Homo sapiens: one gene and its partners. The protein of the gene in region 2 interacts with the protein of the main gene of each other region in a pairwise test. Each region holds a gene or a part of one and is shown on either strand. Other genes may lie near its edges.

Evidence for each region.
Region 1: the proteins of NME7 (region 2) and ISY1 interact in binary tests that used the Homo sapiens proteins (3 or more experiments, as listed by UniProt).
Region 3: the proteins of NME7 (region 2) and ZNF526 interact in binary tests that used the Homo sapiens proteins (3 or more experiments, as listed by UniProt).
Region 4: the proteins of NME7 (region 2) and MYOT interact in binary tests that used the Homo sapiens proteins (3 or more experiments, as listed by UniProt).

The regions. Positions count from the first base shown.
Region 1 is NC_000003.12:129,150,182-129,158,791, forward strand, and holds part of ISY1 (pre-mRNA-splicing factor ISY1 homolog), read right to left. Parts: intron 8,379-8,610; coding exon 8,327-8,378; intron 6,740-8,326; coding exon 6,674-6,739; intron 6,495-6,673; coding exon 6,452-6,494; intron 1-6,451. Other genes in the region: ISY1-RAB43 protein, read right to left, coding at 6,452-6,494, 6,674-6,739, 8,327-8,378. UniProt on the Homo sapiens protein: Component of the spliceosome C complex required for the selective processing of microRNAs during embryonic stem cell differentiation. Required for the biogenesis of all miRNAs from the pri-miR-17-92 primary transcript except miR-92a.
Region 2 is NC_000001.11:169,357,348-169,365,957, forward strand, and holds part of NME7 (nucleoside diphosphate kinase homolog 7), read right to left. Parts: intron 1-8,610. UniProt on the Homo sapiens protein: Possesses an intrinsic kinase activity. Displays 3'-5' exonuclease activity with a preference for single-stranded DNA. Does not seem to have nucleoside diphosphate kinase activity.
Region 3 is NC_000019.10:42,215,344-42,223,899, reverse strand, and holds the start of ZNF526 (zinc finger protein 526), read right to left. Parts: upstream 3,589-8,556; 5' UTR 3,513-3,588; exon of another isoform or gene 3,265-3,512; intron 1-3,264. Other genes in the region: DEDD2 (DNA-binding death effector domain-containing protein 2), read left to right, coding at 6,893-7,220. UniProt on the Homo sapiens protein: May be involved in transcriptional regulation.
Region 4 is NC_000005.10:137,883,250-137,888,351, reverse strand, and holds the end of MYOT (myotilin), read right to left. Parts: exon of another isoform or gene 4,969-5,102; coding exon 4,761-4,968; exon of another isoform or gene 4,731-4,760; intron 2,305-4,730; coding exon 2,139-2,304; intron 1,489-2,138; coding exon 1,355-1,488; intron 1,140-1,354; coding exon 967-1,139; 3' UTR 501-966; downstream 1-500. UniProt on the Homo sapiens protein: Component of a complex of multiple actin cross-linking proteins. Involved in the control of myofibril assembly and stability at the Z lines in muscle cells.

The DNA of each region.
Region 1 (8,610 bases), on a different chromosome or scaffold from region 2:
TTCCTTTGCCTTTCCAATTAAATTTCAGACATAGAATGTCAATGTAAACAAAAAATCCTGTTAGAATTTTGATTGTGATATATTGGAAGAGAGAAAGAATTAACATCTGTACTGTGTTAAGTCTTCCCATACAACAGCACAGTGTATCTCCCCATTCATTCGGGTCTTCTTTGGTTTCTTTAGTCATCGCATCCTAGTTTTCAGCATACAGATCCTGACTGTATTTTGTTAGATTTATACCTAAGTATGGCCAGGCGCGGTGGCTCATGCCTGTAATCCCAGCACTTTGGGAGGCCAAGGCGGGTGGATCACGAGGTCAGGAGATCGAGACCATCCTGGCTAACATGGTGAAACCTCGTCTCTACTAAAAATACAAAAAAAATTAGCCAGACGTGGTGGTGGGCGCCTGTAGTCCCAGCTACTCGGGAGGCTGAGGCAGGAGAATGGCATGAACCTGGGGGGCGGAGCTTGCAGTGAGCTGCACTCCAGCCTGGACGCCAGAGCAAGACTCCATCTCAAAAAAATAAATAAATAAAATTAAAATTAAAAAGATTTATACCTAAGTTATTTCTTGTGTTTTGGTGCTTTTGTAAATAGCACTTTAAAAAAATGTTGTATTTCCAGCTGTTCAATGTTAGTATATAAAAATATAATTTTGAAGCTGAGCATGGTGGCTCACACCTGTAATCCCAGTACTTTGGGAGGCTGAAGCAGGCAGATATCACTTGAGCCCAGAAGTTCCAGACCAGCCTAGCCAACATGGTGAAACTCTGTCTCTACTAAAAATACAAAAATCAGCCAGGTGTGGTGGTGGATGCCTGTAGTCCCAGCTACTCGAGAGGCTGAGGCAGAATAGCTTGAACCTGGGAGGCAGAGGTTGCAGTGAGCCGAGACTGGGCCACTGCACTCCAGCGTGGGTGACAGAGGAAGACTCTGTCTCAAAAAAAAATATATATATATATAAATATATAAAATATATAAATATATAAAAATATATATAAATATATAAAAATATATATATGAATATATATGGGGTGTGTGTGTATATATATAATTCTGTATATTGAACTTCTTTTCTGTGATCTTGATAAATTCACTTATCCATTTTAGAAGTCTTTCTGTAGGTTCCTTGGGATTTTCTACATAGAAAATTATGTAGGATTTTAGGTGGGCATGGTGGCTCATGCCTGTAATCCCAGTACTTTGGGAGGCAGAGGCGGGTGGATCACCTGAGGTTGGGAGTTCGAGACCAGGCTGGCCAACATGGCGAAACTCTGTCTCTAGTAAAAATACAAAAATTGGCCGGGCATGGTGGCACATGCCTGTAGTCCCAGCTACTCAGGAGGCTGAGGCAGGAGAATCGCTTGAACCCAGGGGACAGAGGTTGCAGTGAGCCGAGACTGCACCACTGTACTTCAGCCTGGGTGACAGAGCGAGACTCCATCTCAAAAAAAAGAAAATTATATAGGATTTTCTATGTTACAATAAAGACAGTTTTACTTATTATTTTCTAATCTTTATGCCTTTTATTTCCTTTTTTTACTTTACCGCACTGGCTAGGATTTCCAGCATCACGCTGAATATAGTGGTGAGAGTGGATGTCTTTGCCTCGTTCCTGATCTTAAGAGGAAAGCATTCAATCCTTCACCATTAAATAGTTTATTGGCTATGGGTTTCTTATAAGTACTTTATCAGGGCCGGGTGTGGTGGCTCATGCCTGTAATCCCAGCTCTTAGGGAGGCCAAGGTGGGTGGATCACCTGAGGTTGGGAATTCGAGACCAGCCTTGCCAACATGGTAAAACCCTGTCTCTACTGAAAATACAAAAATTAGCTAGGCGTGGTGGCTGGCACCTGTAATCCCAGCTACTCGGGAGGCTGAGGCAGGAGAATCACTTGAACCTGAGAGGCGGAGGTTGCATTGAGCTGAAATTGCACCACTGCACTCCAGCATGGGTGACAAGAGCAAAACTCCGTCTCAGAAAAAAAAAAGAAGTGCTTTATCAGGGTAAAAAGTTCCCTTTTATTCCCAGTTTGCTGAGTTCTTATCATGAATAAACGTCTAATTTTGTCAAATACTTTTTCTGCATCTACTTAGATCATACAGTTTTTCTTCTTTGGAATGACACAGTGAATTAACTTATTTTTGAATGCTGAATCTACTATGTTTTTCCAGAATAAATCCTCCTTAGTTGTGATGTATTATCCTTTTTATACATTGCTAGGTTTTGTTTTTTTTTTTGAGACGGAGTCTCGCTCTGTCGCCCAGGCTGGAGTGCAGTGGTGCAATCTCGGCTCACTGCAAGCTCCGCCTCCCGGGTTCCAGCGATTCGCCTGCCTCAGCCTCCCAGGAAGCTGGGACTACAGGCACCTGCCACCACGCCCGGCTAATTTTTTTGTATTTTTAGTAGAGACGGGGTTTCACCGTGTGTTAGCCAGGATGGTTTCGATCTCCTGATCTCACGATCCACCCACCTTGGCCTCCCAAAGTGCTGGAATTACAGGCGTGAGCCACCGCGCCCGGCCATACATTGCTAGGTTTGATATGCTAATGTTTCATTAAAGATTTTTGTCTATATTCATAGGAAATATTGTCAGTAGTTATTTCTCATAATATCTTTTTCTGATTTTAGCATCAGGGTAATGCTGATACTAAAATTCACAAAATGAGTTACAAAGTGTTCCCTCTTCTTCCATTTTCTTGAGGAAACTATGTGGAGTTGGTATTATTTCTTCCTTAAATATTTAGTAGAACTGACCAGTGAAGCCATCTGGGTCTGGAATTTTCTTTTAGAAAGGTATTTAGAAATGAATTCAATTTCTTTCCATCTTTTTTTTTTTTTTTTTTGAGATGGACTGTCGCTCTGTCACCCAGGCTGGAGTGCAGTGGCCCAATCTTGGCTCACTGCAACCTCTGCCTCCTGGGTTAAAGTGATTCTCCTGCCTCAGCCTCCCAAGTAGCTAGGATTACACGCATGCGTCACCATGCCTGGCTAATTTTTGTATTTTTCATAGAGACAGGGTTTCACCATGTTGGCCAGCCTGGTCTTGAACTCCTAACCTCAGGTGATCCACCCACCTCCACTTCCCAAAGTGCTGCAGTTACAGGCGTGAGCCACGGTGCACAGCCCCAATTTCTTTAACAGATATAGGACTACTCAGGTTTACCATTTCTTTTTGAACTGTGTCTCTAAACAGTAGAATTATTGACACTGTAGTTTATTTAGGATAATTATTTGTAGGAGGCTTAGCACATCCCTGGCCTCTACCCACTATGTGCCAGTAGCACCCTTCCAGTTGTAACAATCAAAAATTTCTTCAGGGCTGGGCGCAGTGGCTCAAGCCTGTAATCCCAGCACTACGGGAGGGTGAGGTGGGCAGGTCATGAGGTCAGGAGATCGAGACCATCCTGGCTAACATGGTGAAACCCCGTCTCTACTAAAAATACAAAAAAAAATTAGCTGGGCATGGTGGTGGGCGCCTGTAGGCCCAGCTACTCAGGAGGCTGAGGCAGGAGATTCGCTTGAACCCGGGAGGCAGAGGCTGCGGTGAGCCAAGATCATGCCACTGCACTCCAGTGTGGGCAACAGAGCAAGACTCTGTCTCAAAACAAAACAAAACAAAACAAAATGAACTATTTCTCGGCCAGGCACTGTGGCTTACACCTGTAATCCTAGCACTTTGGAAGGCCGAGGAGGGTGGATCCCCTGAGGTCAGGAATTGAAGACCAGCCTGTTCAACATGGTGAAACCCTGTCTCTACTAAAAAATTACAAAAATTTGGCTGGGCGCCATGGCTCACGCCTGTAATCCCAGCACTTTGGGAGGCCGAGGCGGGCGGATCACGAGGTCAGGAGATCGAGACCATCCTGGCTAACACGGTGAAACCCCATCTCTACTAAAAATACAAAAGATCAGCCAGGCGAGGGGGTGGGCGCCTGTAGTCCCAGCTACGCGGGAGGCTGAGGCAGGAGAATGGCGTGAACCCCGGGGGGCGGAGCCTGCAGTGAGCTGAGATGGCGCCACTGCACTCCAGCCTGGGTGACAGAGCGAGACTCTGTCTCAAAAAAAAAAAAAAAAAAAAAAATTAGCCAGGTATGATGGAGGGTGCCTGTAATCCCAGCTACTCGGGAGGCTGAGGCAGGAGAAATTGCTTGAACCCAGGGAGGTGAACCCAGGGAGAAATTGCTTGAACCCAGTGCAGTGAGCCGAGAACTCGCCACTGCACTCTAGCCTGGGTGACAGAGCAAGACTCCATCTCAAAAAAAAAAAAAAAAAAAAAAAAGGACCACTTCTCTTAAGTGAGCTTTGGCAGTTTGTGTCTTGTAAGGAATTGACCTATTTCATCTAAGTTGTCAAATTTATGGGCATAACATTGTCTGTAATATTTCCTTATTATCCTTTTAATGTATATAGATTCTATAGTAATATTCCCAATTTGGTTCCTAATATTCTTAATTTGTGTATATTTTTTCTTGGTCAGTCTGACTAGAAGTTTATCAATTTTATTGATCTTTTTTTTTTTTTTGAGACAGAGTCTCGCTCTGTCTCCCAGGCTGGAGTGCAGTGGCGCGATCTCAGCTCACTGCAAGCTCCACCTCTTGGGTTCATGCCATTCTCCTGCCTCAGCCTCCCAAGTAGCTGGGATTACAGGCGCCTGCCACCACATCCAGCTAATTTTTTGTATTTTTAGTAAAGACGGGGTTTCACCGTGTTAGCCAGGATGGTCTCGATCTCCTGACCTCGTCATCCGCCCGCCTCGGCCTCCCAAAGTGCTGGGATTACAGGCGTGAGCCACCACGCCCAGCAATTTTATTGATCTTTTCAAAGAACCAGCTGTTGGTCTGTTTTCTCTATTCATCTTGTTTTCAATGCTATTGATTTCTTATCTTTACTATTTCCTTCCTTCTGCTTGCTTTGGGTTTAATTTGCTCTTCTTTTCTAATTTCACAGGGTAGAAGCTTAGATCACTGATTTGAAAACTTTCATAATTTTCTATTATTTCAGTGCTATATATGTATTTTTTGTTTGTTTGTTTGTTTGTTTGTTTTGAGATGGAGTCCTGGAGTGCAGTGGCACGATCTTGGCTCACTACAACCTCCGCCTCCCGGGTTCAAGCGATTCTCCTGCTTCAGCCTCCTGAGTAGCTGGGATTACAGGCACATGACACCACACCCAGCTAATATTTGTATTTTTAGTAGAGACAGGGTTTCACCATGTTGGCCAGGATAGTCTCTTATCTCCTAACCTCGTGATCCACCCGCCTCGGCCTCCCAAAGTGCTGGGATTACAGGTGTGAGCCACCGCACCAGGCCAGTGCTATACATTTTTATCTAAGCACTATATCCCATAAATTTTTTCATCCCCTAAATTTTGACATTACGTTTTCACTCTAATTAAATTCAAAATATCTTCTAATTTCTTTGCTGTTTCCTCTCAGACACATGAATTATTTACAAATATGTTGTTTAATTTCCAAATATTTAGGAATTTTTCAGATATGAATCTGTTGTTATAATCAGAGAAAATACTCTGTGTAATTTCAATTTTTTTTTTTTTTGAGATGGAGTTTCACTCTTGTTGCTGAAGCTGGAATGCAATAGTGTGATCTTGGCTCACTGTAACCTCCGCCCGTTAGGTTCAAGCGATTCTCCTGCCTCAGCCTCCCAAGTAGCTGGGATTACAAGCATGCGCTACCACGTCCAGCCAATTTTGTATTTTCAGTAGAGGTGGGGTTTCTCCATGTTGGTCAGGCTGGTCTCAAACCCCAGACCTTAGGTGATCCTCCCTCCTCGGCCTCCCAAAGTGCTGGGATTACAGGCGTGAGCTACTGCGCCCGGCCTCAAATATTTTAAATTTGCTAACATTTGTTCTGCAGCCCAGAATATGTTTTATTTTGGTGAATGTTCCACGTGCTCTTAAAAAAGACCATGTATTAGGCCGGGCATAGTGGCTCATACCTATAATCCCAGCACTTTGGGAGGCTGAGGCGGGCGAATTGCAAGGTCAGGAGATCAAGACCATCCTGGCTAACATGGTGAAACCCTGTCTCTACTGAAAGTACAAAAAAATTAGCCGGGCGTGGTTGTGGGCACCTGTAGTCCCAGCTATTCGGGAGGCTGAGGCAGGAGAATGGCGTGAACCCAGGAGGCTGAGCTTGCAGTGAGCCGAGATCGCACCACTGCACTCCAGCCTGGGTGACAGAGTGAGACTCTGTCTCAAAAAAAAAAAAAAAAAATGACGTATTCTTTATTGTTAGGTACAGTGTTGTGAGACAGAGTATTCTACAACTTTCAACTACATCAAACTGACTGATCGTATTGATTGGCTCTTCTATGTCCTTACTGATTTACTATCTACTTGCTCTATTGATTATTTTGAAAGGAGTATTGAAGTCCTCAAGTCTAATTGTGGATTTGAGAATCAAGCACTTTAAAGGAACAAGTTTGCTTACCATTCTGAATCTGAGCCACTTTTTTAGAGATCTCTCCAATGATCTATTAAAAAAAAGTAATACATTTTAATAATTTTTGAATATGTTAGAAAGCACAGAAAAACTATAATTCAAAATTAGTATTTAAAAATACTTAGACTTTTGGTCTAACAGTCATTTAGATAATAAGAAGAAATGAGAGACTTGTTACTTCTACTGAAATCAGATTTACCCAGAACATACCTGTCGTCTCCACTTCTCAGCTTTAGGCAGTTCAGTACATTCTGAGGCCAGAAAGGGTCTTCGTTCCTAAGGAGAAAAAAATAACACATTTCCATTATACTATTTACAAGTTTCAAACAACATTCAGAACTGATTCAGGCCTTAAGCCTAAATCATCTAATGGCCTAAAAACATTTGAAGTTTTCATTCCAGATGATCCTCATCAAGCCTTAAACCTCATTCTACAATCTCTCCTTAGGAAAAACATTGATTGCATTGTATTTAATATTGGAAAGAACTTAACTGTCCTGCAATAGAGAGACAGCCAAACTAGGTTATAGCTATTTCATGGCATATTTATAGTACCTTAAGAAACAATGTCTATCAGTGTTTAAAACAAACATACATAAATATGGGTGTATTCATATACATGTGCGTATATAAAATTAAAAAAAAAATCCAAAGAATGGTATATATTATCTCTAATTTGGGTGAGTCTCTAAGAAATGAAATAATTTACCGGTTTCAGCTTACAGCTGTTCTCCACATCATACTCCAGTCCCTATTCAATATTAGAGCTGGAGTAATAAAGGACCCAGTCATCAGGCTGGGCACGGCGGTTCATCTCTGTAATTCCCACTTTGGGAGGTCAAGGCAGGCAGATTGCCTGAGGCCTGGAGTTTGAGACCAGTCTGGCCAACATGGTGAAACCCCATCTCTACTAAAAATACAAAAAAATTAGCTGGGTGTGGTGATATGTGCCTGTAATTCCAGCTACTCAGGAGGCTGAGGCAGGGGAATTGCTTGAACCAGGGAGTTGGAGGTTACAGTGAGCCAAGATCACGCCACTGCACTCCAGCCTGAGCGACAGAGCGTCCATCTCAAAAAAAAAAAAAAAAAAAAAAGGGCCGGGCCCAGTCATCATAATACAGAAGAAACTGAAAAACAAGCAGCCAGATCCATCACCCTGCCTCAGCTATGGGGAGGTATTGGAATTCAAGTGTACAGACTCTCAAGAGCGTCAGCAGGTACAGATAAGAAATAGGAAATTCTGAAGTTTGAAGTCTGTTGACCTGGAGTGCAGCAGCGCGCTCTCGGTGCACTGCAACCTCCGTCTCCAGGGCTCAAGTGATTCTTCTGCCTCAGCCTCAAGTAGCTGGGATTACAGGTGCCTGCCACCATGCCCAGCTAATTTTTGTATTTTTAGTAGAGATGGGGTTTCACCATGTTAGCCAGGCTGGCCTCAAACTCCTGTCCTCAAGTGATCCACCCCCCTCAGCCTCTCAAAGTGCTGGGATTACAGGCGTGAGTCACTGCACCCTACTTTTTTTTTTTTTTTTGACAGGTTCTCACTGTGTCACCCAGGCTGGAGTGCAGTGGCATGATCATGGCTCCCTGCAGTGTAAGACTCCTGCATTCAAGTGATTCTCCTGCCTCAGCCTCCCCAGTAGCTGGGACTACAGGCAGGCGCCACCATGCCTGGCTAGGCTAATCTTTGTATTTTTTGTAAAGAAGGGATTTTGCCATGTTGCCCAGACTGGTCTCAAACTCCTAGACTCAAGTGATCCACCCACCTCAGCCTCCCCAAGTATTGGGATTACAGGCATGAGCCACTGCACCCAGCCTGCATTTATTCTTGATACTTTACAATTCATGAGGAAGATTTACACCAACCTTCACTTTTCCCTCTTCCAGCTGAGCCTGGCGAAATCTTGCTAAGGCCGTCCTACCAGCGATATAAAAGATAAAAGACTCCATTAGATCCTGCTCATACAGACTTCTCATTACCCATGTTCCTGTATGGGGTAGATCTGCTTATGACCATATTTAATGTCATTCATATACAAATATTGTAATTAAGAAACCACAGAATAGTTAGGGATTTCCATGTTCTCAGGAGTAGGAATTATGAGGCAATTTGTATTCCTGAACACCCAAGAATCTATTTTACTTACACT
Region 2 (8,610 bases):
AAGATGAGTTCAAGAGCCTCTGCTCTATATCTGAATATAAATGCTTATTATGTCAAGTTTGATTCTAGAAGTGTTCTAATAATGCATGCCACAACCTAGGTGTTAAGGGTATTGGGAGACAAGATAAAATCATCAGGCCAATACTAATTTTTATGTGGAAATGCTAGAAAAAGTGATCATAATATTATAGAAGCCATTCATTCTTTGCATAAAAACTTGAACATTTTTAATTATGAAAAATATTCAGATATCTAAGATAGACAGATATTCACCTTTTAGAGATCTCAGTGCATGCAGTAAAATCCAATAAGGTACCTAAAAGGCAATATGGTTTAACATAAATGATAAAACTGTACTTGCCACTAGATGAAGGGATTTTCAGTTTTTCCAGAGCCGAATTTCTGAGTCTAAGTGGCAAGAAACAGACTGGGTCTGAACGGTCTCATTGTACTTTCACAGTCAAATTACTGAATAATAAAATCTCACATGACCAGCAATAAAAGTAAATGTTCCCAGCTAATCCATTTAAATTGAGTAGATATTCAGGGATCTCACACCTAATACCTGCTAAATACATATCACACATGTTTAGCTGCCCCTATCCACAAAAGTATATGACCATTATTGAAACTGGTCTCAAGACCAATCTCTGCCATTTCCCTCCCTTTTACCAGCTTTTTCTTATTTCCATTAGGAAAATGAATCTATAAGAGAAATTTAGGAAGAGGGAATTTAATATATAAAAGTAAATTTTTCAATAGCCACAAAATTGCATAACACCATTAACCTCAAATATTTATTTTTGAAGGTTGATATTTTAATCTCTTCCATTTTCCTCAACTATCTTCTCATTAGGCAGCAATCTGGTTAATATGAAAATAACACATTTCATATGTATATTACAGTTTATAAATTACTTTCATATTAACTTATTTGATCTTCACAAAAAATGCTTTAAGGTAATCTAAACAGAAAGTATTATTTTGATTTTATGGATGAGAAAATAACTATCCAAAAAGATTACATAACACACAGCTCATAAGTGCTTAAGCCAGGACTGGAATAAAGACTGAAATTTTAGATTTCTAGCTCTACATCAGTTTGTTTGTACTTCAACAAGCTACATCTTGAAAATAAGTACACAAGAGAGGACTGGAAAATCTGTCTACAAATAATAGTTAAAAAAAGGCCAACTTAATATTCTTCACTACAGTCAGACAATAAACCTTGAATTTTAACAATTTATAATAGATGTAAAACAATAATTACAAAGAAATATTGTAGGTAAGTATTAACAGTGCCTTTCATCTATAGAACATACAGTAATTTATATTTCTCTCAATATTCTGAGCAAAGCAGGTGACAGTTTTATTAAAAGTTCAAATCTATTGTTAGACATATGTATGTAATGTATAGAAATACCAGTTTAGAGTTTAGAAGAAACAGGCACCATGGTATACTGCTAGCAGAGTATTCACTGGCAAAACTATTTTGGGAGTAGTCTGGCAATGTATATTGAAAGCCTAAAAATGCACATGACCTCTCGCACCTAGTTATTTCCTTTTTAATTTATTGTAAGGAAATAATTATGGATGTCTATAAAAATGTGTTCGCAAAAATATGTTAGTATTGTGTTAACAGAACAAATTAATAAATGGATTGGTTAAATCAGAGTAAATGAAAGAATAAAACGTAGAGCTGTCCCTCAGTATTTGCAGGGGATTGGTTCCAGGACTCCTACAGATACCAGAATCCTTAGACGCTCAAGTCCCTTACATACAATGATATAGCATTTGCATATAACCTATGCATATCCTCCAGTATATTTTAATTCATCTCTAAATTACTTACAACACGTAATACAATGCAAATGCTATGTAAATACTTGTTATAGTGCTTTGTTTTTATTTGTATTTTTTATCATTGTATTGTTATTTTTTTTTTTCAAATATTTTCAATCCTCAATTGGTTGAATCTGGATGCAGAACCCATGGCTACCCAGGGCTGGCTGTAGTTCTTAAAACTGATCTGGAAAAATGCAAAAGATATATTAAGTGGGATAAAACAGATTTCTAAACAATGAATATAATAGAATCATATTTTAAAGGATATGTATCTCTGTGTGTGTGTGTATATATGTATGAGTATATATGTGACCAGGATATTACACAAAAATATTAATAGCGATTGTATACAGGCAGTGTTATTATAGATAAATGTAATTTTATTACTTTTACTTTTATATTTTCTCATTTCTAAAAATGACTAAGTAATTTTCCTATATTTCTACAACAGAATAAGTTAAATATCTTTATAAACATATATAAAACATATATAGCATATATATGTATCATGTAAATATTGAAACTATGGAAAACAAAGGATAAAAGTTGAATTTACATCTATCAGAGAGCTCTAGAGCCATTATGTGTGCATATGAAGATACATTTTAAAGAGTATAGAAATATGAAGAAGGCACAGCACATAAGATGAGTCAGGAGAGAGAACAACAGCAACTTATTAAGGCAAAGTGTCCAGTATCAGAAAATAAATGTGAATTAAGCAGTACATTTTAATAGCTACAGTTTCTCACATCTAATTAACAGAAAGTTTTAAATATTGACAACTTTGGAAGTGAAGAAGTTTAGGCAGTTTTTGAAAAAAATGTGAATACAAAGTTCATTGGGAATGCTGGAGATACTTCTGGAAAGTAAGATACTTCAATCATATGCTATAGCAGCATCAAGAAAGGTACTAGGTGAAGATCACAGCAGCAAACATAACTCCCATGTTGAAACTATAATGCATACCCATCTGGAATATGTAGCTCTGCTCGCCACACCTTAGAGTAGATATTATAGAAACAAAAAATAAGTCCAGAAATGGGAAAATAAATTATGAAATGGCAACTATAAGGGATGAAATTAGGAGTCTCTGAAGTTCAAAGACAAAAGAAGCTCAGAAAAATATTTCCCAAAGCTTATAAGATCATAAATTTTACAGATAAGATAAAAATAAGCACCAAGAGACCAAATTAATATGGCAAAAGTTTAAGGCAAATCCAAGGAAAATAAAATATTTTGATGGAATAGGTAAAATATATAAGATGTATAATACTACTGCATTTAGAATAAAATCCAAAATCCCTCCCAAGTTCCATAAGTCTCAGTATTCCTGGCTCCTTCCTGCCTCTCAGATCTCTTCTCCTCCAGCTGTCCTCTCATTCCCTAGGCCCCAGCCACACTATCTCCCTCCTGTTCCTCTAATGCACCTCTGTGCTCACTATTGACTCTGCCTGGAATGCTCTTCTCCTAGGTTTCACCTGGCAAGCTGCTTTCTATCATTGACATCTCAGCTTAAAAGTCACATCCTCATGAGGACCGTCCCTGATTGTCCTACTCAAGGCTACTTGCTCTTGGAACCAACCAATATTGCATTACTTAGTTTAATTTTCCTCATAGTACTTATCATCATATGAGGTCATCATTCGTTTATTTATTCATGTAAACTGTTTTTCTCTCAAACTAAGGAAAAAAACAATTAAAGAGTTTTATCATCAAAGAGACTTTCCCTCACCACCCCAGGCTAGTTCAGATCACTCTATTTTATTACTAACTTCCACCTCACCTTGTCATTTTTCTTTTGTAATCCAACTTATACTTGTAATTTATTTTCCAATATCTGTTTTTCTCCATAAATTCCATGAGTTAGGGGCCACTGTGTGCTATCTTATTAATCAATGTATACCCACCAGTTACCAGTATATGGAAAGTACTCAATAAATACTTTCTCGAATAGAAGAATAACTGGTGAATGAGAAAGAATTGGGAATAAAAAGGCAGAAAAAGGAAAGCAAAAATAAATAAAAAGCTACATGAAAAAAATTATGGCATTATATTAACCACTTACTATTCCGTTCTCCAAATACCACTGTTTCCTACTAAACAAGAATATAACAGGCTCTAAACTGCATTTGTAATACAATATATAGGAAAATAAACTTTTAAGAGTTTCATATCTGCAATTTATGCCCTGTGCTTTCTGATTCACTTTTTGTAAATAAAATCCTGTGGATCTTTGGAACTGCAATTCTTCCAAATCAGCAATTCAAGTAACAAAAGGAATTCTGGATGACTAAAAAGCAGATGCTGTCTGGGTGCCAAGCTTCATGCCTATAATCCCAGCAGTTTGGAAGGCCGAGGCAGGCGGATGACCTGAGATCAGGAGTTTGAGACTAGCCTGGCCAAAATGGCGAAACCCCGTCTCTACTAAAAATACAAAAGTTAGCCAGGCGTGGTGGCATGCGCCAGTAGTCCCAGCTACTCGGGAGGCTGGGGCACAAGAATTGCTTGAACCCAGGAGGCAGAGGTTGCAGTGAGTGGAAATCGCGCCACTGCACTCCACAGCCGGGTCGACAGAACAAAACTCTGTCTAAAAAAAAAAAAAGGCAGGTGCTAAAAACAAAACCAGAAAAGCTATTAGGAGAAACGTCATAAAGTTGGAAACTGAAAAGCATTTCATTTCATGGAATAAAATTTTGTTCTTCAGTAATTATGAAACTGTCTTTGAAAACTCTGTTAAAAACAACTTTGACTCATGCCTGTAATCCCAGCACTTGGGGAAGCCGAGGCAAGTGGATCACTTGAGGTCAGGAGCTCGAGACCAGCCTGGCCAACATGGTGAAACCCTGTCTCCACTAAAAACACAAAAATTAGCCAGGCATGGTGGCACATGCCTGTAATCCAAGTTACTCACAAGGTGGAGGCAGGAGAATCGCTTGAACCCAGGAGGCAGAGGTTGCAGTGACCCGAGATCACACCACTGCACTCCAGCCAGGGTGATAGAGTGAGACTGTGTCTCAAAAATAAATAAATACATAAACAAACAAACAACTTTGAGACATTTTACTTCAAAGGTTTAGATTAGTTCTTATGGAACATAGCTAATAATCTTTAAAGTCCTTTATTACACTAACAGTTCATCTGGAGTAATGATATTCTAATAAATGCTATATTTTAGAAGATACATAATATTAATATCTTTGTCAAATATATCTTAGAATTACCTTCTCTGTCCTCTTTATAATATGTAAAAGAAATTGATGAGTCCAGCATACGCTTCATCTTAAATGAGGTGTATGAGAAACATGCTAAACTATGGTTCCCTATCTCTGCTTCACAATATAAAGGTGATTCCAGAATTTGGAAGCCTCAACTATAACAAACTAGATGAAGACAGAAGCTGATTAGATAAACTGCAGTGGTCAGGAAGCCTCACCAACAGAGCAAACAACCTCCATCTTCAGCTGCTTATTGAGAGGCCATAATCCTTTGCTGCAATACATACAACAGTGGCTAGACTGAACACAGAGAAGGGACATCTGTTTCTTAGGCCTGTTCTTTCTCATAAATGATTGATGGCAAATATGGAGGAGAGTGATCTGGATGCACAAAGAAACTTGAAAATTTTACTCTAGCCAATTTTAGGCTTTCGTTAATTCAAAGCTGTATCTGCCATACAACAAGAACATTTTCACTAGATCAAAAGAGGAATAAGAATATCTGCAGGCCTTGAGATTTCAACTATTTTGCCTTTTAAACTATATATTAGCTGAACGTGGTGGCTAACATAAACATAATCCCAACACTTTGAGAGGCCAAGGTGGGAGGATCACTTGAGCCCAGGGGTCCAAGACCAGGCTGGGCAGCATAGTGAGACCCTGTCTCTGAAAAAAAAAAAAAATTAGCTGGGCATCATGGCACACACCTATTATCCTAGCTGCTCGGAAGGCTGAGGCTGGAGGATCACTTGAACTTGGGAGGTTGAGGCTGCAGTGAGCCATGATCTCACCACTACATTCCTGCTGGGTGACAGGGCAATATCCTGTCTCAAAAAAAATAAATAAATAAAAATAAAATAATAAGATAAAACAAATAAAGTATATATTATTCAAAGTACCCTGTGTCTTGAACTTTGTGGATCAGGACTCACAGTAAGAAATATATTTTACATCAGAATCCAGTACACATCCAATACATATACAATTAAACAAAAGTTCATGAACGTTACCCTTACAACATGTAGTGAATATGTTAAGTTGCTATTTTATGTCATCTTTTTAATGCTGGCTACATACCACAAATTTGAGTAATGAGTCATCAGGTACAGTTTGAGAAACACTGCTGTACGTATACGTGTGGTCTGGCCTCTGCCTACCTCCCTAACCACATTTCATGGTATTTTGCACCATATTTTCCCTACTGCAGCCACCCCTGCACCATCCCACCACCCAGTTTCTATTATTTTATTACATTGAACCATAAGTTCCTAAAATATACCAATCTCTTTTCTGCCTCAGGGTATTTGATCTTGTTGTTAGCGTGGCCTGGACTCCTCCAGATCACTGCACTTTGTATTATATTATGCAGGTCTCAATATAAAAGTTCTTTCCACAGAGAGGCCTTCATTGACCACCTAATTTGAAAGAGCCCCAGCCTGCAATCCCGGCAGGAGGAGTGGGAACAGGAGTTCATTCATTGCCCTTAGCATTCCTGGGAAGTTTGATAACATAATGTAAGACAGGCAAAAACCAAAAACAGTATTGAGCAAATGTCACTTTCTACCTCCCTATGCCATTGCACAGGTCATAGAATTCTAACTATTGAAATTCTATTCCATTTTCTTCATGACAACTTTTCTGACTCTGACTGAGAAGCAGGGACTCAATTGTACAATTTGCCCCCTATTACTTTGTATTCTCTCAGACCACTTAGCGCATTCTTTCTTATTTTGTATTCATTCCGCAAACATTTGAGTGCCTAATATGATCTAGGCAATACTGTGAACAACATAAGCATGAATTCCTCCAACAGTTCACATTTTAGTAAGAGTGACAGATCTATAAACAAATAATTTCAACCGAATGAGGCAAGTACAATAGGAGAGATGTATACTACATAAAATGGTGACAAAAAGAATGAACAATCAACCTCTTTTTCTTTTTTTCTTGATTTCACAGTGTGGAGGGGAAAGCTCTGAATATCTGCATAGATTTTAAATTTGTATTTATTTATACTTTTTTAGAGACAAGGTCTCGCTATGTTGCTCAGGCTGGCCTTGAACTCTTGGCCTCAAGCAATCCTCTGACCTCAGCCTCTTCAATAGCTGGGACTACACACATATGCCACCGCACCTGACTCGACTCAACCCTCTTTGAGTAGGGAAGGAAGGCATCACAGAAAAGACACCTACACTGGGTCTGGAAGTGAATCCACCTTTGCAAAAATTATAACAGTGAGAGAAATCTAACCTAACTGACTCCATATTGCTTCTAACCTCACAAAGCTAACTGCCCTTGCTCATACCTGGGCATAGGCAAGCTAACTATGGGAGAAATTTATAGTTTAACTTTGAAGCAAGGATGGTAATAGTCCCTTCCAAAACTGACCCCCTCTAGGGACTAAAACAGCCTTGTAAGACTAATAGAAGGCCGCAAGGTTAGGACTATGGGAGGGACCTAAAATCTGCTAAAATATAGGCATAGGTAAGCAATAACCAGCTACTGTTCCTTGCTTTTCTATAATTTCTTACTATTCAGAAGTCATGTAGCCAGAGGTCACAAGATTTGTAACTTCACCAATTGCTCCTTTAGATAACATCACTATTGTAAAACCTAAGATTGGTCTTGAGATATTTTCCAGGCTTCTGCATTCTGGCAAACCTCCTGATGCCACCCAGATACATGCCTCATACCAAGAAACTGACTCTACTAGTCCTATGACTCTCACCTAGACAACTGACTCAGCACAGGAAGACAGTTTGGAAACACCTATAAATTCATCCCCAACCAATCAGCAGCGCCCATTCCCTACCAACCTGCCCACAAAATTATCCTTGAAAACCACAACTTCCAAGCTGTCAGGGAGGCGGATTTTAGAAATATTTCCCATCCTTCCACTCAACTGCCTTGCCTCCATTAAACTCTTTCTCTGCTGCAACTCCTGCATTCTCAATGTTTGGCCTTTCTGGGAAGTGGGCAAGAAGAACACGTTGGCCTGTAATAGGAGAATAAATAAGTTTGGCAAGCAACAAGAGGGTGCAAGTATTCTGTGTAGAAGGAATTGCAAGTGCAAAGTAGAAAGAGGAGGCATACTACCAGTTTGAAGTTGCTTGGTATGTTCAATGAAAAGCAAGTAGCTAAAAGGCAAGAGAATTTTTTTTTTTTAAGTATGGAAAGGGAAAGGCAAAAGCTAGACAGAAAAGTGCTTGTTCATGGAGGAACTTGTGTGCCATTCTAGACATTTTACTGTAGGAAATAGGGAATCTAGAGTTTTAAGGAGGTGAGTAAATCAACAGGTTGGGTTTTTAAAAATTCCTTCTTGTGGCAGAGAAAATAATGGATTGGAGAATTTCCAGACCAGACTGTAAAAGTCACTATTAAAATAATCACGAAATGAGGAGATGACAAACTAAAATTTGATCTAGTGAACAACTGAATATGGGAGAAATAGAAGAGGGAGGAATGTAGGATAACTCTGATTTCTAGTTTAGGTTATAATATAGTAGTAGCATTATTTAACTTGGTGAAAATAGGAGAAACCAGGAGGAAAG
Region 3 (8,556 bases), on a different chromosome or scaffold from region 2:
GGCCTCCCAAAGTGCTGGGATTACAGATGTGAGCCACCACCCCGGCCAACAGCCCGGCCTCTTTTTTTTTTTTTTTTTTTTTTTGAGATGGACTCTTGCTCTGTTGCCAGGCTAGAGTACAGTGGCGCAATCTCGGCTCACTACAACCTCCACCTCCTAGGTTCAAGTGATTCTCCTGTCTCAGCCTCCCGAGTAGCTGGGACTACAAGTGTGCGCCACCATGCCCAGCTAATTTTTGTATTTTTTTGTTGTTATTGTTGAGATGGAGGCTCGCTCTGTCGCCCAGGCTGGAGTGCAGTGGTGCAATCTCTGCTCACTGCAAGCTCTGCCTCCCAGGTTCAGGCCATTCTCCTGGCTCAGCCTCCCGAGTAGCTGGGACTACAGGCGCCTGCAACCACGCCCGGCTAATTTTTTGTATTTTTAGTAGAGACAGGGTTTCACCGTGTTAGCCAGGACAATCTCAATCTCCTGACCTCGTGATCTGCCCGCCTGGGCGTCCCAAAGTGCTGGGATTACAGGCATGAGCCACCACGCCCGGCCAATTTTTGTATTTTTAGTAGAGATGGGGTTTCACCATGTTGGCCAAGATGGTCTCGATCTCTTGCCCTCGTGATCCGCCTGCCTCGGCCTCCCAAAGTGCTGGGATTACAGGTGTGAGCCACCACACCCGGCCCAGCCAGCCTGGCCTCTTTACCGAGAGGGCCAGGCACACCTTTTCTGAGAATACCATAGCCTTTGCCTGCGTGCAGCTTTCTCTTTGTGCAATGCTTTTCCTCTGCCTCTTACATATACACACACAGATACACCCAAGTGTTTAAAAACACAGGCCCTGGAACCAGACTGCCCTTGGCTTGAATCTGAGCTCTACCACTTACTTCCTCTGAGGTTGTCTTCTTACCTGTAAAATGGGGCTAAAAGTAGTACTGACACAAAGTCCCTGGTACTTGTAAAGGTCAGCTGTAACCCTGTGTAGTTCTCCAGAAAGATTGTTTTTAGACCCTAAGTCTTTGATGTTGCTATTCCCTTTGCCAAGAAACTTCTCTCCTCTTTTTGTCTGACAAACTCCTACCCAGCACCTTTTGTGAAGCCTTCTCTGACATCTCTACATCCTCAGGGTTCCTATGGTATCCTGTGCCACCTCTATCATGGCAAATATCATGAGTTTGGGGTGGCATCTCACTGTTCCTCACTGGACTGAGAGTTTGTGGGTCTGATTCATTGTGGAGGCTCCAGTCAGCAACAAAACCTCTGAGCAGGGACAGGAATTTTAACTTTCAAACTTCCCTCTATATGCCCCATCTTCCCTTCTACGTATGTGGGCTCAACCCCACCCAGGCCCCTTCACACAGCAGGGACTCAGAGTACACTCAACAAATGACTGCCTCCCTCCCAGGCCTAGCAGCTAATTTTATGAATTCAAACCCACCTTCTTTACCTCTTTTTCACCTAATCTATTAGTGCCAGAGGGCAGGTGGAGTCTGGTTTACAGCCTTGCATATAGAAGTTGCTCATATTGCCGGGCGCAGTGGCTCACGCCTGTAATCCCAGCACTCTAGGGGCCAAGGCAGGCGATCACAAGGTCAAGAGATCGAGACCATGCTGGCCAACATGATGAAACCCCGTCTCTACTAAAAAAAATACAAAAATTAGCTGGGCGTGGTGGTGCACGCCTGTAATCCCAGCTACTTGGGAGGCTGAGGCAGGAGAATGGCTTGAAACCGGGAGGCGGAGGTTGCAGTGAGCTGAGATTGCGCCACTGCACTCCAGCCTGGAGACAGAGTGAGACTCTGTCTCAAGGAGGAAAAAAAAAAAAAAAAGTTGCTCATATTAAGCACCTAGACGGTAGCAGTTTAGCCTGCACATCACTGAAGCACGTCCAGTGCCAAGAACAATGTCTAGCACACAGTACATATTTAGTGACTGAGAAATGCTCCCAGGCCAGGTGTGGTGGCTCACATCTGCAATCCTAGCACTTTGGGAGGCTAAGGTGGTTTGATCACTTGAGCCCAGGAGGTGGAGGCTGCAGTGAGCCTCCCTTGGGAAGTGAGACCTTGAGAGGTTTTTTTTTTTTTTTCCTCCTTTTGAGACAGGGTCTCACTCTGTTGCCCAGGCTGCAGTGCAGTGGTGCGATCTTGGCTCACTGAGGCCTCCACCTCCTGGACTCAGGTGATCCTCCTGCCTCAGCCTCTTGAGTAGCTGGGACCACAGGTATCTGCCATCATGCCTGGCAAATTTTTATTTTTATTTATTTTATTTTACTTTTTTTGAGACAGAGTTTCTCTCTTTTTGCCCAGGCTGGAGTGCAGTGGCACGATCTCGGCTCACTGCAACCTCCGCCTCTTGGGTCCAAGCGATTCTCCCGCCTCGGTCACCTGAGTAGCTGGAACTACAGGCATTCACCACCACGCCTGGATAATTTTTGTATTTTTAGTAGAGATGGGGTTTCATCATGTTGCCCAGGCTGGTCTTCAACTCCTGACCTCAAGAAATCCACCCACCATGGTCTCCCAAAGTGCTGGGATTACAGGTGTGAGCCACCACACCTAGCCCCTGGCTAATTTTTAAATTATTTGTAGAGAGGTCTCCCTATGTTGCCCAGGCTGGTCTCGAACTACTGAGCTCAAGCAATCCTCCCACCCAGGCCTCCCAAAGCGCTGGAATTAGAGGTGTAAGCCACTGCCTGGCCGACCCTGAGTTTAACTGTCCCTATGCACAGTCCATTTCTACCAGACCAACTTCCCCATTAGACTGTGAATTCCCAAAACACACAGCCCAGTACAGGGCCCTGCTTTCAGTTAATGCCCAATACATACTCCTTGAGTAAATTATTCACTAAAGGAGCTGGAGCTAAACTTTCCTTATCTACTATTCCAATCCCCTTCCTAATTTTTGAGTTGCCAGGCCCCTGCACACAACAGCCATTCCACAAAGGACCTTCCTGGAAGTAGGCAACCAGGGGCCCGAGAGTTCCATTTTTCCTTGATTACAGCCCCATTTCCAACAGAGAACTCCCCTAGGGCGAGGCCCAGTGCCTGCTGCAAAGCTTGCACAAAGCAGGTACCCAATAAATGTCTACGAGGTGGCCCGGGAGACTTGAAATTTGCCCTTTCCTCGTCTACGATTCTTTCTCCCACTCTTGAATTGTGAACTACTTAGGGAAAGAATGGGGGTTTTTCACACAGTATATCAGTAAGTCTTTCCAGGAAGGAACCCACTAGGGCCCTGGAAATTCAACTTTCCCGCTTTACAACGCTTGTCTCCTACCAGACTGAGCTCCTCGGCAGGGTGAGAGCTCGCAGCAGTGGGTGGTGGGCGAGTTCCAGCGTAGGCTCCCGCACACTAAAGGAGCCCCAGGGCACACAGGAAGGAGTGCTCTCCTTCCAGCCCGCGCCGCTCCCGCCCTAGCGCAGGCCCCAAGGCTCTTCGATCCCTGCAGACCCCTTAGTTTTCCTTCCGCCCCCTCCGTCCGCCCAGCGTTCTCTTCCCAGTCCAGCCCCGCGCGGCGCCCTCACCCGTTTCTCTTATCTCCTGCAGCCCCTGCCGCTCTTGACACAGACCCTCGGCTCCAGGCGTGTGGGACCCCTCACTATCCACACCTCCCATTGGGCGGTGCCCTTACCCGTGGCGACCAATCAGAGCCTGCAGCGCAGGGCACGCGACCTTGCGCCTGCGTGTTGCCACACAGGCGGGGCTCTGGGAGTTATCCACGCACACATCTTCGCCCTGTGGGCGGGGCTCAGGGCGAGGAGATGCGCCTGCGCATTTCTCTGGGTCGCTCCCGGGCTAAGCGTCGGCAAGTTCTGTAGAGAAACTCGGGCAACCTTTGGTGAGCGTTGGGCCCATGGAGTGAACTGGGCGGCGGGAGACCTTGACAGAGATGTCATTTCAAAGCTGAAGAGACGGAGCATTTCTGAGAGTACAGCTTTAGAGCCCGACACACTTGGAGTTATTCTCCTCTCCGGGCCTCTGTTTTACTGGTGTGAAGTGAGCTTGAGTCACAGCCACCTCAAAGATTGTTTAGGGGATTGGATGATATCACACATGCACAGCGCTCATACACTGTAGGCGCCCACTACAACCCACTTAGCAAGACAGAATCCTTCACAGTTTGTTAAATTGCTTTCCTATTCTCCCTACTCTTCGTTTGATTTAATGATAGTCACTTACCAGGCCCCCTTGTGAGTTTAGCCCAGGACTATGCTTCCGTAGCTTACCATTGCCATCCATTTGTTTCACAAGTAGGGAAACTGAGGCCCAGAGAGGGGAAGGGATTTCTTGGAGGGTTTGTTTGTTTGTTTGAGACGGAGTCTCACTCTGTCGCCCAGACTGGAGTGCAGTGGCACGATCTTGGCTCACTGCAACCTCCGCCTCCCGGGTTCAACCGATTCTCCTGCCTTAGCCTCCCGAGTAGTTGGGATTACAGGTGTCCACCACCACGCCCGGCTAATGTTTGTATTTTTTAGTAGAGACGGGGTTTTGCCATATTGGTCAGGCTGCTCTCGAACTCCTGATCTCAGGTGATCCACCCGTCTCGGCCTCCCAAAGTGCTGGGATTACAGGCGTGAACCACCGCGTCCGGTCTTGTTTGTTTGTTTGAGACAGAGTTTTGCTATTGTTGCCCGGACTGGAGTGCAATGGCGCAATCTCGGCTCACGGCAACCTCCGCCTCCAGGGTTCAAGCGATTCTCCTGCGTCAGCCTCCCGAGTAGCTGGGATTACAGGCATGCGTCAGCACGCCCGGCTAATTTTGTATTTTTAGTAGAGATGGGGTTTCTCCATGTTGGTCAGACTGGTCTCGAACTCCCGACCTCAGGTGATCCGCCCGCCTCGGCCTCCCAAAGTGCTGGGAATGCAGGCGTGAGCCACCGCACCTGGCGTTTGTTTGTTTCTTGAGACAAAGTCTCGCCCTGTGGCCCAGGCTGGAGTGCAGTGGCACTATCTCTGCTTACTGCTCCCTGGTTCAAGAGATTCTCTTGTCTCAGCCTCCCAAGTAGTTGGGATTTCAGGCGCGTGCCACCACATCCGGCTAAGAACAGACAGGGTTTCATCATGTTGGCCAGGCTGGTCTCGAACTCCTGGCCTCGTGTGATCCGCCCACCTCGGCTTCTCAAAGTGCTGGGATTACAGACGTGAGCTACCGCGCGCAGCCGATTCTTTTGAATTCACTGCTACAGCTCAGGCAGAGCCAGTACTGGGCCAGTGCTAGGCAGGACCCAGATCTCCCGACTCCCAAGAGGAGTTAATTGCGGGGGTGGGAAGAGGTCCAGGGAGGGGACTTGTCTCAAGTACATGCAGGTCCTGACCTTGAGTCACCTAAGTGGGGGGCGTGGCGACCGTCACACCCAAGGCCCCGCGGTAAGGGGACACGCATACACCACAGCCTAGACTCCCTGACAGACCCTCTCTAGTTGTTGCAAGTTAGGGAGCGGGTATCTGGGCGACCCTGGAGGGCAGAGATTGGAAGGGGTTACGGAGGGGCCGTTTTGGCTCTGGGTGGAGACATCTGACTGTGATGGGGGTCGTGATGGACGCCATCGAGATGTACACAGTCGGAATGGAGGGTTCTGTTGCCGCTTGGAAGGAGGTATCCGTCCTGAACGTGAGATGAGGGAATTCTGGTTTTGATCAGGGGAAGGAACTTATAGACTGCGGGGGTGGTGGTGGGGGGGCGGGATTTCCATTTGGGATCACGAGAGAGCACAGTTGAGATGTAGATCCCTGGTTGTCACTAGAAGTGAGGGACAATCTAATGGAGGAGTGCCCAGGACCAGATCATATAAGGCCTGGGAGTTTACTGGGAGACGGGAAAGTAGTGATTGTGTTACTTTGCCACGGGCAACTAGGGGCAGTGGTGATGTGGGCGTCTAGCTCGTGATCAGGAGGGGGCTGTAGTTTATGAGATGAGTAGTTACAACTACTCGTGACGTGGCGCTACATGGCCCCGGTGGCTTGAGTCACGGGCAGGAAGTAGGGACCTGGAACCGGGTACCAGATACAGCCCAAGAGGCGGCGTGCTCTCGCTCTGCGCAAGCGCAGCACTCGCGAACCAAGATGCTTCGGTTGGGGGCAGGTCAAGCGGCCCAGGAAGGGCGGGGCTTGGAGGCCTCGTTCTGCGCATGCGCCGAAGGGGCGTGGCGGTCGCACCTGCGCGAGTTGGGGGAAGGAGGAGGGGCGAGGTGACGCAGGCGTAATAATAGAGAAGGTGCCAGAAAGATCCAAAACAAGTGGCTGCGGCCGTCGCCCAGGAGTCATCGGACGCCAGAATCTGGTGAGGATCCAGAGAGGCCTAATGGTGACTGGTGGCGGGTAGACAGGACCACCTGGGCTCTGGGGAGCGGGCGGGGCCGCCCTTGCAGGGCGAGGGGGTCGGGTTCGGACGGTACCACCTGTGTGGAGCAAAGGGGCTGCCTGGGTCGCTCCTCTGTGTAGGGGGCAGAGGGTCACTTTCGGGAGGTACCACTTGCGTAGAGCCGGGGGACTCATCAGACGGTACCGCTGGACGGAGAAAAGGGGCTCGTCTGGGCAGTCCTACCCAGAGTCAGGGGCAGTCAGCAGGGAGCCCCGGGGTGGGCCCCGAGGCTTGTTTGGGCCGCATCGTTTGGTCAGGTCCGGAGGCGAGCTCCGAACGTAGCACGGTGGTGGGGGCAGAAGCCGAGCGGGCTCCGGCGTCCCGACCTGTTCTTAGGGGACCTCGGGCGGGACCATTCCCTCCCGGGGGAGGGGGAGGCCGAGGCGGTTGGGGGTGCGGGAGCGGCCCTGCCCGGCGCGATTGGGCGGGGGAGACGCGCTGGCGGTGTGGGGTTCGGGCCTCCGCGTCGCTGACCACTGCCCCCTCCCCGCTGTGTGGGTTCTAGGCCGGGTTCTGAGCTTGTTCCGCCTCCCTCCCCCGGGAATGGCGCTATCCGGGTCGACCCCGGCCCCGTGCTGGGAGGAGGATGAGTGCCTGGACTACTACGGGATGCTGTCGCTTCACCGTATGTTCGAGGTGGTGGGCGGGCAACTGACCGAGTGCGAGCTGGAGCTCCTGGCCTTTCTGCTGGATGAGGCTCCTGGCGCCGCCGGAGGCTTAGCCCGGGCCCGCAGCGGCCTAGAGCTCCTGCTGGAGCTGGAGCGCCGCGGGCAGTGCGACGAGAGCAACCTGCGGCTGCTGGGGCAACTCCTGCGCGTGCTGGCCCGCCACGACCTGCTGCCGCACCTGGCGCGCAAGCGGCGCCGGCCAGGTACGGTTGAATGGGAGGGTGTCACACTTCCTGGGAGGAAAGGGCCTGGCTCCCGCTGGGCCTCCCTGGTGCCCTGATACGGACAGTGCCATATCAGGCAGCTTATGTCCCATTCTGCTACTCTCTCTTCCCACAATATCAATGAGCAACATAAGAGGAAGAAAGCATGGCTTTGGGAATTTGGCCACATCAGTGATGATGATTTTGGCCACTGTTTACGGAGGGCTTGTTTCATGCCAGGCACAGCTGTCAGCCCTTCATATGAACTAGTGCCTTATAGTCTCCCAGTAATCTCACAAGGAAGTCCTGTTACTGTCTTCACTGTAACCAAGAAAATAACAAGTTCAGAGAAGTTAAGCAGTTTGCACGTATAATAACAATCCTGTTTGCTGGGCCTAGGAGGGATACAGGATGATGGAGCTGACAAGGTGTTTGTTCCATGAAGTTTAAGTTTAGTGGGGGCAATCAGATAATAAGAGAACTTATTTTTAGACGCTGTTGTAGGAAGACTAAAAGTAATGGAATAGAGAGAGTCAGGAGAGCAGCAAGGTGAAGGGAGGCTTTGCCCTGAGGCTGCACTGCCAGCCATGCATAGACCCCAGGGGAGAAAATCCCAGGGAGCATCCAAGGCCTGAGGTGGGAATGAGTTTGGCATCATCAGAGGCCAGTGTGGCAGGAGCAGAGGGGACCCAAGCTAGGGAAGAGAGGGAGGTAAGAAGTTATGTCATGAAGGGGCTTGCAGAGAACGTAGCTGGGAAGTGTGGGAGCCAGGATTCAAACCTAGCCAACTTGTCCCCAGAGTTGATGCCCTTAATCCTTGTGAAGGAAGTGCTCCTGGAGGATAGCAGCCTTCACATGAGAAGCTGGGAGGGGTTCAGGCTGCCGGTAGCCGTGTGCATGAATAGACCAAGCCTTTGTCTGGGTTACTAAAGGGGCAGTGGCTAGTTTGGGGAGGGGGGATTATGGCCTTCCCTGACCCAGAGTAAGCCCACAGGATTTAGATAAGCAGGAGAAGGACAGCTCTAGGGAAGAGCTGACAGCATTTTTGGATATCTATGTCTGAAGATCACGCTCTAGAAGAGAAGATTTGGGGAGCCTGCACAGAGGCCTGCTTACTCCTTGGGGAGAGCTGGGGGCAGTTGATGCCAGGGCAAAGGGCCATTACAGGGACCCTTACCATGACTATCAACAGAATAACCTTGACAGTTTGAGCTGCCGTAGACGTGGGTTAGATTGCCCCAAGTCGTGATAAGTTCTCTCTCTTAGGAGGCATCTGAGCAACCTCTGCAGGAGGTGTTTGAGAATGAGTGGGTATTTGGGCTCTGACTACTGGGGA
Region 4 (5,102 bases), on a different chromosome or scaffold from region 2:
AATTATTAGAGGAAAAACACCCATATATAGGTAATCAAATTTACATAATTTTTTTTTTTTTAGAGATGGAGTCTCGCTATATTTCCCAGTCTGGCCTCAAACTCCTGATCTTAAGGGATCCCCAGCTCAACCTCTCCCAGCAGCTGGGACTACCGGGCTGTCAAATTTACATTAACTATGAGAATTAAGCAGGTAATCTCTAGAGACTATTCTTATTCCTTTGAGCATAACAGACTGAAAAATCCTGAAGAATTAGAAACCTGTTTGGTTAAAACAAAATCACAAATTCAGTAGATTCAGTCATGATTTAAGTTCTTGTGATTGCCTTTGAAGTGCAAACCATGGCAAGTCTAGCTTAGTTTCTAGAGGAATTGGCTGAGCTGTAAGTGAGCTTCACACTGTTCTAGAATATAACATTGCTCTTTTGGAACTTGTTATTCATAGGTTTTGCTGAGTGGAGTTTTATTTTACAGATCTAGACTTTTGTGAAGAGGAGACAGTCCGTTTTAAATATTTGAATTTTATTTTCTTTTGACATACAACTGTGGAACACTCAGATAATCTATACCATGTTAGTATTCCTACAAGAGAAAACGGGTAAAACAGTATTTAGAAAGCAGTACCAGTAAACGTTATTACAAGCATTAGATGTGTTTAAAAAGTTGATACTAATTTATAACCTGTAATTGTTAAATGTGCATGACTTAAATGTTAAAATCCTGTATTTTAAGATAGTCTTCTGCAGTTACAAATCCATATACCCAGATTTCCTGTAGGCTTCACAAATCGGAGGGGTACATAGAATGTGCAAGAGTCAAAGGATAAATAATATTATAAATATATATTAACTATATTACCTAATTAAAACCATAATCTGTTAATACAGCTATGGATTAATTTCAAAAAAATGTAATCAAATATATTACTAATGGTGTAGTTGGCTGTTTTCCAATGTTGGTAAAGTTATTAAAGTTCTTCACTTTCATAGAGTCCAGATTGAGCTGCCAAACGCTGAAATTCTCCTTCTGGGTTAAAAGCTTGTTTTACATTCAAACCTTTCCCATTAAGTGCTAAATATTTGCTGAATGTTGGTCGAACCCGTAACTGCTTAGGAGCTGGAAGAGTTTGGTTTGGACGTGCTGAAATAGATCACATAAAAGTTGATTCAGAAAACCTGTTCTAACCAAATTGGTCACACTAGGTATTTATTATCAGACAGGAAAAGAAAAAAGAACCAAAACTGATTATATATGGGGAAAATATCTCAAATTTTATACTCTGCTGGGATTTTCATTTCTTATTAAATCTTCCTAGTTAAATCCCTTATAATACTTTGGTTAATAGTATGACATACCCGTAACGTCTAATCTTGTGTTACATGTAGTCACTCCAGCTTCATTAACTGCTGACACAGTATACCACCCAGCATCTTTCTTGTTTACATCTTTTATCAGTAAAGTAACTCTTCCAGTGTTATCTTGATATAAGCTGAAATAAAAATTTTTAAGAAATGAAAGTACAGGAATTATTTCTGTGAAGTGGATGTCTCTGACCAACAGTCAGACTAGGAAGAAAAAAACATTTGAAAATTCCAAAGCTGTATCTATTTATTGCCAAATAGCTATTGGTTTTCTTGAATTAAACATCCCCCCTTGGGTGCTGTCTCCCTCTGCTCTTCAATCTGTCCCCTGATGGTCCCTGTCATTCACTCGGGTGTGTCTGTGTTTGTATTTATGCGTATGTATAGGGGAATGGAGGGGTCCTGACCTGTTCCGTTATCTGTCTCCTACCTCCTCCTTTGTTTAATAAAGGCTGAAGCTTTTTGTAAAGAAAGAAAAGAAAAGAAAACATCCCCCTTTAATCTTGTTTATGTCATTTATTTCCTTGGGCCATCTTTCATCATCGTTGATAAAAAGATAAATCCTAGTCTACTTTATGCCTTACATTTCTGATTAGTGGAATCTGGCTTACTGAAGTTTTCTTACATTTTTATCTAATATATATTTTATTATATTATTCTTTAGTGTTTTAAAAACTAGACAAATTGAGATAAATGCATGCCATTTATAATGCATGTTAAAAAGTATAACTGGATTCACCCAAATAAACTATAGTAAGTCTAGAAATACATATCCTACCTTATTCGGTCAGTGTTGAATTGTACCATTTCATTATTTCTTTTCCAGAAAAGCTTTGGTGGAGGTATAGCCGAGATCTGGCATTCTAGTTTCACTGAATCTCCCTCTAAAACTTTTTTGCTCTGTGGTTTGTAGATAAACATTGGTGCTCTTTTATGTTCTTTTGCTATATATTAATACAAAAATTCAAGTATTTGAAATATTATAAAAAAGGTATTAAATCAAACCAAGGTATTATGAAATTTGTATGTTGATATTAAAATGTTAAAAAGCAACAGCAACAGAAAGAAACTCAGTAAAAAAGACATGCAGTACTATTTTGTTATACCATTCAGAATTCTAAACTCTAATGTAATGATGCATTGAATTGATAATCAGATAATTATATTTCATTCAAACTAAAGTCATATTCTTTTTTTTTTTTTTTTTTTTTTTTTTTTTTGAGACAGAGTCTCGCTCTTTTGCCCAGGCTGGAGCGCAGTGGCGTGATCTTGGTTCACTGCAACCTCCGCCTCCCAGGTTCAAGGAAGTCTCCTGCCACAGCCTCCTGAGTAGCTGGGATTACAGGTGTGCACCACACCCAACTAATTTTTGTATTTTTTTTAGTGGACACAGAGTTTTGCCATGTTAGCCAGGCTGATCTCTAACTCCTGGCCTCAAGTGATCTGCCCACCTCAGCCTCCTAAAGTGTTGGGATTACAGTCATGAGCCACCGTGCCTGGCCCAAATTTAAGTTATATTCTTTATCATCTCATCTACAGGGAGGCAGCATGAGTGATGGAAAGAGTATCAGACAGCTTGGGTTCAAATTACCTATTGGCTCCATGAGCCATGCCAAATTGGTAAAATTTTGTTTAGTTTCTCTGAGTCTCAGTTTTATCTATTGTTATAAAAAAAAAATCCCGGTAGTAGTGACTGTTGTGTCTACCACACAAAATAATTGTAAGGAACAAATGAGATAATAAACAAAGAGATACTTTGTAAACTCTGAAGGAATGTGGGAATATCAGTAATTATTATGACCTTATTTTCAGCTACCTGAGGGGAGACAGGAAACGATAGTTCAGTACCATAACCCTGGTTTTTCTGAAGGAGAAATGAGATTAAACGGATGGCAGCCAAGATCTCTTTCAGCTCTACTATTGTAGTATTTCTGAAGCCATTGGTACAAATAGGATTTGTCTAAACTTTAATCACTTAAATTGTATGTGTTTTTGAAAATTTCCAGCCCACTAGTTTTTCCCCTGAGATTGAGGCCCTTTGGTATATTATTGAATAATCTTAAAGATTTTGTATTGATCTGGGTAGAATATAAACTCAAGAAAATAGTTTATCCTTTAACCTGATCAAACTTCTGTATAATAAATAGTGAATTATAGCAAAATATCTCTTATGCAATATACAATGGCTTAAAGTATTAAAAATATGGTATGGGTTGAGTATCCATTATCTGAAATGCTTGGGACCAGAAGTGTTTTGGATTTCTGATTTTTTTTTTATTTTAGAATATTAGCGTTATACTTGTTGAGCATTCTTAACCTGAAAATCCAGAATGCTCTAATGAACACTTCCTTTGTGTGTCATGTCGATTTTGGAGCATCTTAAAGATTTCAGATTTTTGGATTAGGGATACTCAACTTGTATATTTAAAGCACTTAAAGTGTAAAATTTAAAAACCAGACACCAGTTTTATAAGAACTGCTCTACTTAAGACAGATTTGAGACATAAATGTAGCCATACCTGTTTTCTAAAGCAAGTAGGCCTGTTTTGGTTATAATTAGACATTAGTTTCCTAGTAAAAAGGACATAGTCTAAGGCTAAAAGTTGATATTTACTCTTGATTTTTTAAGAAATTTTTTTAAACAAGGTCTGACTGTGTCACCCAGGCCGGAGTACAGTGGTGCAATCATAGCTCACTGAAACCTCAAACTCCAGGCTCAAGTTATCCTCCTGCCTTAGCCTCTCTAGTAGCTGGGACTATAGGTGTGCACCACTATGCCCAGCTAATTTTTTTATTTTTTGTAGAGACAAAGAAGATCTTGCTATTTGTTACCCTGGCTGGTCTCAAACTCCTTGGCTCAAGTGATCCTTCCACCTTGGCGCCTCTTAAAGTGTTGGGATTACAGGCCTGAGTCACTATACCCAGCCTACTCTTCACTTTTAAACTATGTATTTAACGTTTGACAGATTATGATAATTCTGTAATACTGTGAGTCAGATTGGTTATTTTTATTATCCTCATTTTGGAGAAACAAAGACCAGAGAAATGATTAGACTAAGATTTTCATTTTGAGACTCTATAGTTACGTCTAGAAATGCTTATGCTTCATTATTTGGTTTGTCTAAAATTGTATGATTTATTTTCTTTCCAGAAAAGCTTTGGTGATAGATCTGTCATTCTAGTTTCACTGACTTTCCTTCACATATCTATATATGTATGTATGTGTGTGTATATATATATATTTTTTCCTGTGGTTTGTAGATAAAAATGGACATTCCAATAGGTTGTATAGACATTAACCTTAAATATGAAGTCTGCTGGGCTTTTCTTTTAAAATACTTTCTTTTTTTCAATACTTCTGGATTTTAAGGAATTCTCAAGGGTCTCTTTGGAGGCTTACCAAGGACATCCAGCTGCACAGTGAAGGTGGCTTCTCCTGCTCTATTCTTGGCAACACATGCATAAGCCCCTGCATCTGAAGCTCTGACTACTTCAAAGATGAGTGAATGAAGACCCTTCTCAGACACTATCATTTTGTGCAAATCATCTGATTGAACTGTTCTTCCATTTAGATACCATGACACATCAGGAGCTGGCAGTCCACTCACCTAGAAAGAAAAACACAAGGAGATGGCAGAATTTTAAAGTATTGCATCACTGAAACCTATTTGTCCATATATGAATTTAAACAGTTCCCGTATCTGAGTGGGTTTGCGATTGAAATGCAAAGCAAGAGCTCAAA